Regions from separate parts of the Homo sapiens genome. Here regions 2 and 3 are each linked to region 1. The links come from fine-mapping of genetic effects on plasma protein levels. Region 1 holds a variant in brackets. A gene starts in each other region. All regions are shown on their reverse strands.

The links. PIP is the posterior inclusion probability: the model's chance that the variant is causal. The UK Biobank Pharma Proteomics Project read protein levels with antibody pairs (Olink). The fine-mapping took linkage between variants from a reference panel, not from the people measured, so its PIPs are less certain.
Region 2: PI16 starts here. The variant in region 1 is fine-mapped to the plasma level of the PI16 protein (UK Biobank, PIP above 0.99).
Region 3: IL32 starts here. The variant in region 1 is fine-mapped to the plasma level of the IL32 protein (UK Biobank, PIP above 0.99).

What each region holds. Positions count from the first base shown.
Region 1 is chr19:54,247,909-54,252,079 of GRCh38, reverse strand. LILRB5 (leukocyte immunoglobulin like receptor B5) reads left to right here. Exons shown (of 13, transcript NM_001081442.3): 12 at 1-26; 13 at 1,148-2,659. The coding sequence ends at 1,294. LOC107987463 (a long non-coding RNA gene) reads left to right here and starts at 4,134. Exons shown (of 3, transcript XR_007067341.1): 1 at 4,134-4,171. RefSeq lists an enhancer at 1-586. The variant T/C (reference allele first, on the strand shown) is at 2,395.
Region 2 is chr6:36,952,157-36,956,327 of GRCh38, reverse strand. It overlaps PI16 (peptidase inhibitor 16), which reads right to left and starts at 1,590. Exons shown (of 7, transcript NM_153370.3): 1 at 1,397-1,590. The coding sequence starts at 1,567.
Region 3 is chr16:3,063,419-3,067,589 of GRCh38, reverse strand. It overlaps IL32 (interleukin 32), which reads right to left and starts at 1,950. Exons shown (of 7, transcript NM_001376923.1): 1 at 1,903-1,950; 2 at 1,764-1,806; 3 at 175-213; 4 at 1-36. The coding sequence starts at 1,778. RefSeq lists an enhancer at 2,147-2,456.

The DNA of each region.
Region 1 (4,171 bases):
AGGACGGGGTGGAGATGGATGCTCCGGTGAGGCCCCGCCCCTGTCCCGGGCACCAAAGGCCTCCTGGTGCCAGATCTAATCCAGCAGGACTTCTCTGTCCTCCTTCCCCCGGCTCTCAGCATCGTCACGGTGGACCCCTCCTTGTCCAGCACGCTGCCTCCCGCCTGCTGCGACCTCACTCTCTTCTGCTGTCCTGGGACCTCGTGGGCCTCCTCCCGGGTCCCCTTCCTGCTCCTCATCCTCTGTTTGGCCGTCTGGTTGTTAGAGCTCTCCCCAGGCCTCAGGAGGATGAGGAATAAATGAACCGACCCGGTCCCCCAGGCTCCCCTTCATTCATTCAACCAGCGAGTGTTCCCAGGGAGCTCACTGTGGATGGGGCTCCCCATGGGAGCTGCAGACACAGCAGGGAGCAAAGCCGCCCCCGCCTCCTGAGCTCACCTCATGGTGGGAGACAAAATGCAAATAAATGCATCGTGTCCAGGAGTGCAACGTGCTGTAAGGAACATAAACCAGGGAAAGGGCAGAGAGTGTGGGGCAGTGGGGCCAGTCTGAATGGAAGGGGAGGGCTGTCTGCTCAGCTGTCATCTGAGAAGCCTGGACAGAGTGGGGCACACGATCCTCTGATGGACGAGCCCCTGCAGGCAGAGGAAACAGCCGTGCAAAGGCCCCGAGGCAGCAGCGAGCTCTTGCGGGAAGGCCCGTGAGGCTGCAGCCAAATGGGCAAGGTCAGAGTGAGGAGCAGAGGCCAGAACCACAGGGAGGGAGCGGCCAGACCCTCCACGGCCTTAGGGCGTCCCTGAGATTCCATCAGGAAAGGGATGTAATCGGATCACCCCGGGAACAGTGAGGAAAATTGACTCCAGGAGGTCAGGGGGACTCAAGGACACCCCCCACCACTGTCTCTCTCCAGCAGAGCCCACACGATGAAGACCCCCAGGCAGTGACGTATGCCCCGGTGAAACACTCCAGACCTAGGAGAGAAATGGCCTCTCCTCCTTCCCCACTGTCTGGGGAATTCCTGGACACAAAGGACAGACAGGCAGAAGAGGACAGACAGATGGACACTGAGAGAGTCCTTTCCTCTCCAGGCCCCCAGGCCTCCCCCACCCCCACCACGTTCCTTCCCTCTCACTCTCCCCCGCTGCAGGCTGCTGCATCTGAAGCCCCCCAGGATGTGACCTACGCCCAGCTGCACAGCTTGACCCTCAGACGGGAGGCAACTGAGCCTCCTCCATCCCAGGAAAGGGAACCTCCAGCTGAACCCAGCATCTACGCCCCCCTGGCCATCCACTAGCCCACGGGGGACCCAGATCTCATACTCAACAGAAGGAGACTCAGAGACTCCAGAAGGCACAGGAGCTGCCCCCAGTGGACACCAATGAACCCCAGCCAGCCTGGACCCCTAACAAAGACCACCAGGACATCCTGGGAACTCTGGGACTCACTAGATTCTGCAGTCAAAGATGACTAATATCCTTGCATTTTTGAAATGAAGCCACAGACTTCTCAATAAATCAATGAGCTGAGAAAACTGAAACAGAAATTAGAGCATGGTATAAATTTGGAATGATAATGTAAATATTACACATTAAATGATGAAATCGGAAAACTACAAATGAGCGAATGAATTAGAAAAGAATAAAACCTACGTAATTAATGACCTTGGCAATGACAGAAAGAATTTAGAAAAAGAACAACAAATTATTCCAAATGAAGGTGTGAGGAAGGGGACAAAAATAACAAGAGGAGTTACTAATGAGGGCTACGTGAAAACTCGATGAAGCCAAAAAAGCTCATTCTTGAGAATGTGAATTACATTCACAAATCCTAGCCACAATAAGCAAGGAAAAAAGCGGGGTTCAGGCACACATTTCCATATGGGGGTGAAACAGCAGACACCACCACAAATCTGACACATATTGCCTTTATTTTTTTCACTTTTAAGTTCAGGGATACATGTGCAGGTTTGTTAGACAGATAAACTTGTGTCAAGGGGATTTGTCTTGGTTTTTGTGTGAGGGTTTTTGTTTTGTTTTGTTTTGTTTTTTGAGACGGAGTCTCGCTCTATCACCAGGCTGGAGTACAGTGGAGTGATCTCGGCTCACTGCAACCTCTGCCTCCCGGGTTCAAGCGATTCTCCTGCCTCAGTCTCCCGAGTAACTGGGACTACAGGCACCTGCCACCACGCCCGGCTAATTTTTGTATTTTTAGTAGAGACAGGGTTTCTCCATGTTGGTCAGGCTGGTCTCAAACTCCCGACCTCAGGTGATCCGCCCGCCTCAGCCTCCCAAAGTGCTGGGCTTACAGGCGTGAGCCACCACGTCCAGCCCATACATTTCAATTTTAAAGGGATGCGCCCTAGTCCTTAGTTAGTCTCTCCTCATCTCTATAAAA[T/C]GTTCAGCTACTCACCTCTTGGGCTATTGCTAGACATCGTTTTCTCTTCCTTCTTTCTGACGCCTACAATAGATAGGACATTCCCCCTCCTCATTCTATTCTCCCAAGTACTTTAAATTGCAATTTATAAAGTTTCTATGCTACACTCTAAAAAAAATTCTGTTTTGTTTTCTAATTTCATAATTGGTGCTTCACTGTGTCTTGTCCTCGAAGGAATGAGTATTTTGATTGTGTTCATTAAATCTGATTTTTCTATGTCTTCTAATTATTTTATATAATATTCATTCTGCTGTAGAAAAAAAAATCATATAATCCTGCCTCAGAAATTCAATGTCCTCTGTATTTCTCAAATATTTAAACATGTTTAACCTAAGATGGGTCTCACACATTCCTAGTACTCCTTTTGACCATGATAATCCTCATTAGTGAGTGTGGATTGTCAACCATAGCACTTTGTGTTTGATTTTTTGGTTTGTTTTTTGTTTTTATTTATTTATTTATTTATTTTTTGAGACGGAGTCTCACTCTGTCACCCAGGCTAGAGTGCAGTGGCGTGATCTCAGCTCACTGCAACCTCTGTCTCCTGAGTTCAAGCAACTCTCCTACCTTAGCCTCCCGAGTAGCTGGGACTACAGGTGCCCGCCACCACAACCAGCTAATCTTTTTTTTTTTTTTTTTTTGTATTTTTAGTAGAGATGGGGTTTCACCGTGTGGCCAGGATGGTCTCGATCTCTTGACCTCATGATCTGCCTGCCTCGGCCTCCCAAAGTGCTGGGATTACAGGCGTGAGCCACCACGCCCAGCCTGTGTTTGTTTTTGAGACAGGTTCTTGCTCTGTCACCCAGGCTAAAGTGCAGTGGCGCACCACCCCAGTTCACTGCAACCTCCGCCTGCCAGACTCAAGCGATCTTCGACCTCAGGCTCCTAAGTAGCTGGAACTACAGGTGTGCACCACCACACCCAGTTCATTTTTGTCTTTTTAGTAGAGATGGGGTTTCACCATGTTGCCCAGGCTGGTCTCGAACTCCTGGGCTCCAGCGATCTGCCCACCTCGGCCTCCCAGAGCGCTGGGAAAATAGGCGTGAGCCATCGCAGGCAGCCAGTCATAGCACTTTTTATCATTAGGATGATTCCTCTTTCTTCTCATTCTTGGACACTCATCTCCCAGTGCCTCATCTGCCAGAGAGGGTTTCTACCAGGGCTGCACTGGGCGTTAGGCTTGAAAAGAGGAGGACGGCACCACCTGCCCGGGTCTTGTGAGTCTGCTCAGGCCTGTAACCAGCAGGGGAGGGTCCAGTGTGAACCTCATGTCTGACAACTCTACAATGAATCTATTTCACACACACAGAGGGGGAGGCTCAGGGCTGACCATAAACCTGAGTCAATGAGCAGAGATACCCCAGTGCCATCCACAAACACAGGGGACGAGGAGCCACAACTTCCCACTTTCACCCAAAACCCCAACCCCTCCCTGACTGTGAGGGCCCTGGGGTTCTCCTCTGTCTCATATAGAGGCGGAAACCTCCCTTTTAGTGATTCCCTGACATTGCAAGTCACCAGAAGCCAACTCAGCTCTGACCTCGCTGCTTCCTGAGGTTTCCTGCCTGTGTCAGGAAGTTTCATTTCTCATTTCCTTCTATGGCTGCGTATTTCAGAAACATGTATTAGTCAGGGTTCTCTAGAGGGGCAGAACTAACAGGATAGATGTATATATAAAGGGGAGTTTATTAAGGAGTATTGATCCACACGATCACAAGGTGAGGTCCCACAATAGACT
Region 2 (4,171 bases), not on the chromosome of region 1:
GTCCAACAATGAGTCACAGGCCTCAATCAGGGAGCTGTTGGCAGAGCTGCATCTGTGACGCCTGGTTTGTTGTCCACCTTTCCTCGATGTGCAGGCTGGCACAGCTGTGAACGGCAGTGCTGGGTGTGTGCAGAGCTCTTCCTAGATCTTTCTTACGTGTCATCCTGTCTGACGCCCAGGGCAGGGATCGCCAGCCCCATGTTTCCATCTGGAAACAGAGGCCTTTGAAGGGAAAGGGGTCCACCCAGAGTTACTTCAGCCAGATCACATTAGGCTGAGGTTAGAACTTAGGTTTGGGGCCCCAGGCTCACTGTTATGTTCCCCAAGGTGCATCTGTTCTCTCAGGCACCAGCTCCAGGGGTCCCTGAACACTGCCCAGCAACCTCCCCAGTCACCTGAGGGTGGCTGGAGGGGACAAGCTAGTTCAGCCCTCAGGGAGGGCAGGAAGTGGGTGAATTTCTCACTTTATCTCCTTTAATTCTGCATATAGACAGCCCGCCTCTCACCCTACCATAAATAGCTCTTCCTGACAGAAGTAACCAACCCTAAATCTGGCTTCTGTCTCCTGTGTGCATGTACATGTAATGTTTACTACATCTGCGTGTTTCACCAGGACATAAATAGTATTTTTACATGTTTTCAGACTTCATGTAAAGAGATCCTACTGTGTATTTTTTAGAGATTTTATTTCCTCCCCCATTCAGTATGATATCTGTGAGATTCAATCCACACTGGTATATACGTAGCTCTAATTCTGACCGCCTTTTACAGATGAGACACGGGATCGGCAAGGTTACAGGACTTGCCTCGAATCATAGGTCTTGTAGGTGACCGAGACAGAATTTGGACTGTGTGATCCAGAGCCCTCTCTGCTTCTGGATCCTGCTGTCACCCACCTCCTTAGCACCTGCCTCCTACTCCACGTGCCCACGCCCATCCTGCTGCCCTGCTTCCTCTTGTCCTCTCCTTGGCAGGCATGTGAAAGACCGTTTTCACAAAGGTGTTAAGAACTTCCCGGGTTCCCCCACTGAGGGCACATGCATTTGAGGAAGTGCTGGGGAAAGCTCATTGGAGTGGGAAGCCAGGGCTTTGGGTCTGGCTCTACCAGCTGTGTGACCCCAACAAATCCCTCTGAGCCTCACTTTCCTTATCTGTATTATGAGGCTGCTTATAGGGGCCTGTGAATTTTATTAGGCGGGTGCAAAAGTAATTGTGGTTTTTGCCATTTAAAGTAATGTAATACCATGTCAGGGACTCGGGGACTCTGTCACTGACCAGAAAAAGGAGAGGAATTCTGAAATAGCTTCAGCATGAGGAGCAGGGTAAGAGAGCCTGGTGACAGACCCTGGCCAGCACCCCTTCCATCCCAGCCAGCAAGGGCCGTGGCCACACTTACCATGTGCAGCATGTCTGAGGCCGTCGGGGATACCTGGGCCCGGTAGAGGTTGTGCAGCTCCACCATCAAACGTTTCTCCTCATCTGTGAGGGCTCCAACGGGGCCTGTGGTGGCCACCAGCAGTAGCAGTAGCGGCAGCAGAAGCATCAGGAAACTGCAGGAGCCGTGCATGGTGGCCAGCCGTCTCTCCTTCTCCCGTCCAGGGGTCTGGCAGCTGGATTTAAAGTCCTTCCCACACAAGCACCACCCTGGCTGGGGTGGGGCAGTGGGGGCCGTGTTTGAGGCCCAGCCCGACTCACACAATGTCTCAGGGAGGGCTGGGCGCTTTGGGTCCCGACCAGCATCAAGTGCACTCCCCTTGGAGTCCTTGGCAAAAACCTCCTTTCTCTTGGTAACGGGGGCTCAGGCCAAAAGCTGTGTGAGTTCCTAAGTTGTGGACAGATCCTTCAGGGGCAAAATCACAGTAACCTCTGCAGAGCTGTGACTGGTTGCACCCAGGTCACACCCACTGTGTGTTGAAGATAGATAAGAGAAAGGAAACCACAGACCCTACCCACAGAGGAGTGGGCAAGATGAGGAAGCTATAGGCTTTTGAAAGGACAGAGGAAGACCAGATGTATTTGATAAAAGGCTGAGCCAACCTAAATCAGAATCCTGGTTCTGCCCCTTGCTATCTGTGTTTTGGCAGCTTTCTCAAGTGAATCAGTGACAATAATAGTACCTATCTCACAGGACTAGAGGGAAGATTCAATGACATATAATGTATGTAAAGCACCTAGTATGGTGTCTGGCACATAGTAGGCCCTCAGTAACAGTAGACAACCCACTCATGTGGCCTGGGCCTTAGCAGGCTACCAGCCCCCTGTGGAGGCAACATTCTTGCCTGCGGGGGGAGAGGCCAAGGTCTTCCCCACTCTAGCTGTATTCAGGAATAAGGCCTTTCACTATGGCAAAATTTTGGCTTCCAGGTATCCTCTCTGAATGCATGTGCTTGACATGCTCATTTGGAAGTGGGATGCTGGGACCCCTGTGCTCTAACTATGTAGAAATATAATGTGTCTGTTTCTTAAATCAAGAGAGAGCAGAAAAGCAGAAGGTTGAATGAGCTGATGCACCAGGAGCTCTGAGGGGAAGGTATTGGAAGGGAAATAGCCTTAGCAGTCAGGTGCTGGCATTATAATGACCTTGACCTTGCAGGGGCCATGACCGGTTCATGAAGCAGGAAGCTGGAACCAGTACTCTTGAGGACAGCTGGGATCCTTGAAGCCTGCTTCTTCAATGAATAGGGACCTAGAAAAAGTCTACCCACAGGCTTTGGAAGATGACAAGAAAACCTGTCCCTGCCTGAGTCTCCAAGTAAAAATAAAAACAAAACCAAGATGGATTACACACACATACACACACACACACACTTATTAGAATTAATAAAGTCAGCAAAGTTGCAGGATACAAAATTAACACATAGAAATTAGTTGTTTCTATACACTAATAATGAAAAATCCAAAAAGGAAATTAAGAAAACAATTTCATTTATAAAAGCAATGAAAAAGAATAAAAAGAATAAAATTCTTACCAATAAACTTTTTTTTTTTTTTTGAGATGGAGTCTCGCTCTGTCACCCAGGCTGGAGTGCAGTGGCATGATCTTGGCTCACTGCAACCTCTGCCTCCTGGGTTCAAGTGATTCTCCTGCCTCAGCCTCCCAAGTAGCTGGGACTACTTGCCCACCATGCTGCCCACCATAGCTGCTACCATGCCCGGCAAATTTTTGTATTTTTAGTAGAGATGGGGTTTCACCATGTTGGCCAAATGGTCTTGATCTCTTGACCTCGTGATCCGCCCGCCTCGGTCTCCCAAAGTGCTGGGATTACAGGTGTGAGCCACTGCGCCTGGCCCTTAGCAATAAACTTAACCAAGGAAGCAAAAGACTTGTACGCTGAAAATCACAAGTGTTGACAAACAAAGTGAAAGAAGACACAAATAAATGGAAAGTCATCCTATATTCATGGATTAGAAGACTTGATATTGCTAAGGTGTCAATGTTGCCTGAAGCAATCTACAGATTCAATGCAATCCCTATTGAAATGCAAATCATAATATTTTTATAGAAACAGAAAAATCCATCCTAAAATTTATATGGAATCTCAAAGGACCCCAAATAGTCAAAACAATCTTGAAAAAGAACAAAATTGGAAGTCTTACAGTTTCTGATTTTAATATGTAACCACAAATCTACAATAATTAAAATAGTGTGGTATTAGTATAAAGACAGACATTTAGACTAATGGAATAGAATAGCCCAGAAATAAACTCTTACACATATGGTCAAATGATTTTAGACAAGGGTACCAAGACCGTTCAACGAGGGAAAGGCAAGTCTTTTAAAGAAGACTTAGAAAACTGGAATGTCCACATGCGAAATAATGAAGTTGAATCTTTACCGTAAGTATATTAAAAAATTAACTCCAAAATGGATTAAATACCTAAACATAAAAGCTAAAACTACAAAACTCTTAGAAGAAAATATAAGGGGGACTTCTTGGCATTGGATGTGGCAAGGATTTCTTGGATATGACACCAAAAGCATAGGCAACAAAACAAAAATAAATTGGACTTCATTAAAATTAAGAACTTTCGGGGGCAGAGTGTAGTGGCTCATGCCTGTAATCCCAGCACTTTGAGAGGCCAAGGTGGGTGGATCACTTGAGGTCAAGAGTTCGAGACCAGCCTGGCCAACATGGTGAAACCCCGTCTCTACTAAAAATACAAAAATTAG
Region 3 (4,171 bases), not on the chromosome of region 1:
TTGCATTTTATCATAAAATCTTTCTATGGCCTGGTGCTGTGAAGAGAGGCAGAGTTGGCACCAAAGGGCCGGATCCTTGTCCCTCCAGGGTCCCAGGTGTCCCACAGTGTCCTCAGTGTCACACGCTGAGACCCAGGCCCCCAACCCCTGAGCAGAAGTAGGGAGGAGCATTACCATTCGGGCCTTCAGCTTCTTCATGTCATCAGAGAGGACCTGCGGAAATAACGGTGACACTCAGTCTCCATGTGTCACCTTAACCTTTCCTCCAGGATAATTTATACACACACACACACACACACACACACACACACACACACAGAGACACATGGCAGAGGTACAGGATAAGAGGAGACAGCAGTCCCAGGAGCCCCTCACAGCCTGGAAAGACCGGCCAGGGCTGTCCTCGAAACGACTCAGAAAGCGCTTCTCTCAGGAGCCGGCTCAGCTGGGCAGGCCCAAGAGCAGGGCCAGCATGGGCCTAGGTGACCCCTCCTCACAAGAGCAGGGCCTGCGTGGGCCTAGGTGACCCCTCCTCACAAGAGCAGGGCCTGCGTGGGCCTAGGTGACCCCTCCTCACAAGAGCAGGGCCTGCGTGGGCCTAGGTGACCCCTCCTCACAAGAGCAGGGCCTGCGTGGGCCTAGGTGACCCCTCCTCACAAGAGCAGGGCCTGCGTGGGCCGGGGTGTCCTCCCTGCACACACACACCCCCCCATGTACACACACGGGAGGATGGACACTGTCCTGGAGCAGGCTGGCTCAGCTGGGTTTCCCACAACCACTATGGTCCCAGGTGAGAGTTGGCCAAGGAAAAAATGTTTAGGGACATGACAATTGAGAAGGTAACAGCAGCCATTCCTCTCTGATGAGCTGATTAATATTTGGGGTGCCAGGTAGGTCCACCCTACAACCTGCCACTCTTCCCGACTGCCAACATGCAGACCCACAGGTCCCGGGCCATTCCTGCCTGCAGACACGTGGCTGCATCCACAGAGGCCAGAGGCACCCCACAGAATCCCCGCTGAGCCCCCACGTCAAGGGCCTAGTCTCGGGGGTGACATGCCTGGTTTCCCCCACTATAGAGTGGTGACAGTCACCCACAGAGTGCGCAGGGCCTGGGGACATATTCTGGGCAGGGCAGCTGTCTGCACACTTTCAGGCAGCGATGGTCCCATCCCGCTAGCCTGATTTCCCAGGAACCAGGGTGAAAGCAGCACCGTGCCGACATGCGGGAGCCATGTGTCCTCCGGGTCACTGTCCTGAACCTGAGCCAGGCCACATCATGGAAACCCCTATTGTCACAGGCCGAAGAGCTCCCTGGAGGGTGTGGTGGGCCTAGCATTTGCGGTGGGGCAGTGGTAGAGGATGGGAGGTCGGAGGGAACCCAGGAAAGGAGGAAGAGACACCAGGACCCACACAGGCCTTGCTCTTGGGCCCACCCAGCTGAGCCGGCCTCTGAGAGAAGCATTCTCCGAGTCGTTTCCAGCAGAGCCCTGCCCCACCCCTGCCCCGGGCTTTCCGGGCTGTGAAGGGCTCCTGGGACAGGTGCTCCCTCTCATCCACACCCCTGCCGTTCTCCAGCGCCCCCGACACATATGACCTCCAGCGCCTCCACTGACACTCTCACCCCATCACTATCCTCCTGCCGCTGGGTGCCCCTGACTGAGCCCTGACACACAGGCACCTCGGGAAATACTGAGGGCACCCGCACCCTTACGGTCTGTTTTCAGACATGCCCACAAAAGCACACGCAGCCTCTCACTCACCTTCGGGAAGCACATGGCGGCCAAAAGTTCAAGGAGCCAAGGCCTGCTGGCGAGGAACAGGTGTGAGGAAAAGAAAGTGTCTCAGAGAAGCACCCTCCTCCCCAGAGGGTCCTCACCTTCGGGGACCCCAACTCCCCACCTGAGATGACCCAGCTCCACTGAGACAGTCACCTTCTGCACGCAGTCTTCCTGGCACAAATACTCAGCTGGTTTTATGGGGAAAGTGGGGGGTAGTGGGCGGAGCCTCTCTCAGGGCAGGAGGCCTTGCTGAGTGCGTGAAAAACAGACAGAGACAGAGACAGAGACAGAGACAGACAGAGATGGAGACTTACCCGAGAGAGACAGAGGTCTGGGGTCCCTGGGAGGAATGAGGGTCCGTCCCTGGCTGGGCCCCTGCTCCCTCTGAGCTGGGGTGGGAGTCTCTGAGCCCAGGAATGGGCTGCTTTCCCCACCCCACCAGCCTGAGAGTGGGGAGGGGCAGAGGGAAAGTCCAGACTCGGGACAGCTGGCTGGGGAAACTCCCTGAGTACAGGAAGGTGACGTCAGCCAAGTGGGATCCAAGGACAAAGGAATTTGGACCCTGTCCTTGCATGAGGTGTGCCCCGGCTCCAGAGGCCAGAGAAACTTCTGGATCAGAAGGAGGCAGGAACTGCCGGACCTAAGAGGGGCGCCGTGAGGGCAGGGGCCTGTGCACGTTGGAGGGGTGGCTAGTGGTGATGTAGATCTACCTGTGGGACAAGATAGGACCCTCTGCAGGGTGGAAGGCATCCTGCCGGCTGTCTGAGCTTGGCTGACCAGGTCCTTCTGACCCTTCTGGGCCAAGGCAAGGCCATCTGGGGCCGAAGGTCACTGGTCTCAGCAATCTTGGGGCTCCCCTACGGGCTCTTCTAGCTCCACGGGTTCTGACCCTCCAGCCTGGCTGGGCCTCCCACCTCCTCCTCACGGCCCCCAGCCCCCTTCCCCCAGCTGAGCACAACCACGCCCTTGCCTTTGGGATGGTTTCCTGGGGCCAAACTAAGGAAGTACCACGACAAGGGGCCCTAAGTCGAAGACGTCTCTTCCCTCACGATCTGCAGGCTGGAGGTCCAAGGTCAATGTGGGCAGCGTGGGGTCCTTCTGAGGGCCCGGAGCTGGGATTCTGTTCAGGTTTCTCCTGCCCTTGTAGATGGCCATCTTCATCTTCATCACGTTCTGCCTGGGTGTGACTGTCCCCCTTTCCCCTTTCCAAAGGACACCAGTCATATTGAAATAGGGTCCACCCTAGGCCGGGCGCAGTGGGTCACGCCTGTAATCCCAACACTTTGGGAGGCCGAGGCGGGCAGATCACCTAAGGTCAGGAGTTCTAGACCAGCCTGGCCAACATGGTGAAACCTTGTCTCTACTAAAAATACAAAAATTAGCCTTGCGTGGTGGCCGGCACCTGTATTCCCAGCTACTCGGGAGGCTGAGGCAGGAGAATCACTTGAACCCGGGAGGCGAATGTTGCAGTGAGCTGAGATGGTGCCACTGCACTCCAGTCTGGGGGACAACAATGAAAATTCCCCTCGGAAAAAAAAAAAAAAGAAGTAGGATCCACCCCAGTGACCTCATTGTACCTTAAGTACCTCCATAAAGACCCTGTTTCCAAATAAGGGCATATTCTGAGGTCCTGGGGCTTAGGAATTCAGCATGGATGCAATGTATCCCATTATATTCTCAAAGGGGACTCGGAGAGACAGAACCTATAAAACACGCTCCATGGAGAAATCTTCCCTTGGGTGAAGTAGACAACGGTTGTCACCTGCCTGCCACTTAGGAGTCCATTCCACTGTGCGCAACCGCCTTTCCACATACAGGATGTCCAGATCTTTCCCTGAGTATCCTCTGAATTGTAGTGGGAGACAGAAGGAAGCCACTCCTGCACCAGCTAAAAGTCATGCTTTAGGCTTCAGCTCCAACCCTAGCCCCTCATGACTCTCAAAGGCCACCATCTGAAGACATCTTGGGATCCACCCAGACTGTATGTACCCTGTTTTTATAGCTTTATGGTGATGCAATTTACAGGCAATGCAATTCACTCATTGAGCTGTACAATTCAAAGCACAGAACTGTGCAGCTATCACCACAACCCATTTTAGAACATTTTTATCACCTCTAAGAGAAATTCTGCCCTTCTGAGACATCACTGCCAGTCCTCATTTCCCTGGATAACCACTCATCTACTTTTTCTTTTTCTTTTTTTTTCTTAGAGTCTCGCTCTGTTGTCTAGGCTGAAGGGCAGTGGCACGATCTCGGCTCACTGCAACCTCTGCCTCCTGGGTTCAAGCAATTCTCCTGACTCAGCCTCCCGAGTAGCTGGGATTACAGGCACGTGCCACCACACCCAGCTAATTTTTGTATTTTTAGTAGAGACGGGGTTTCACCATGTT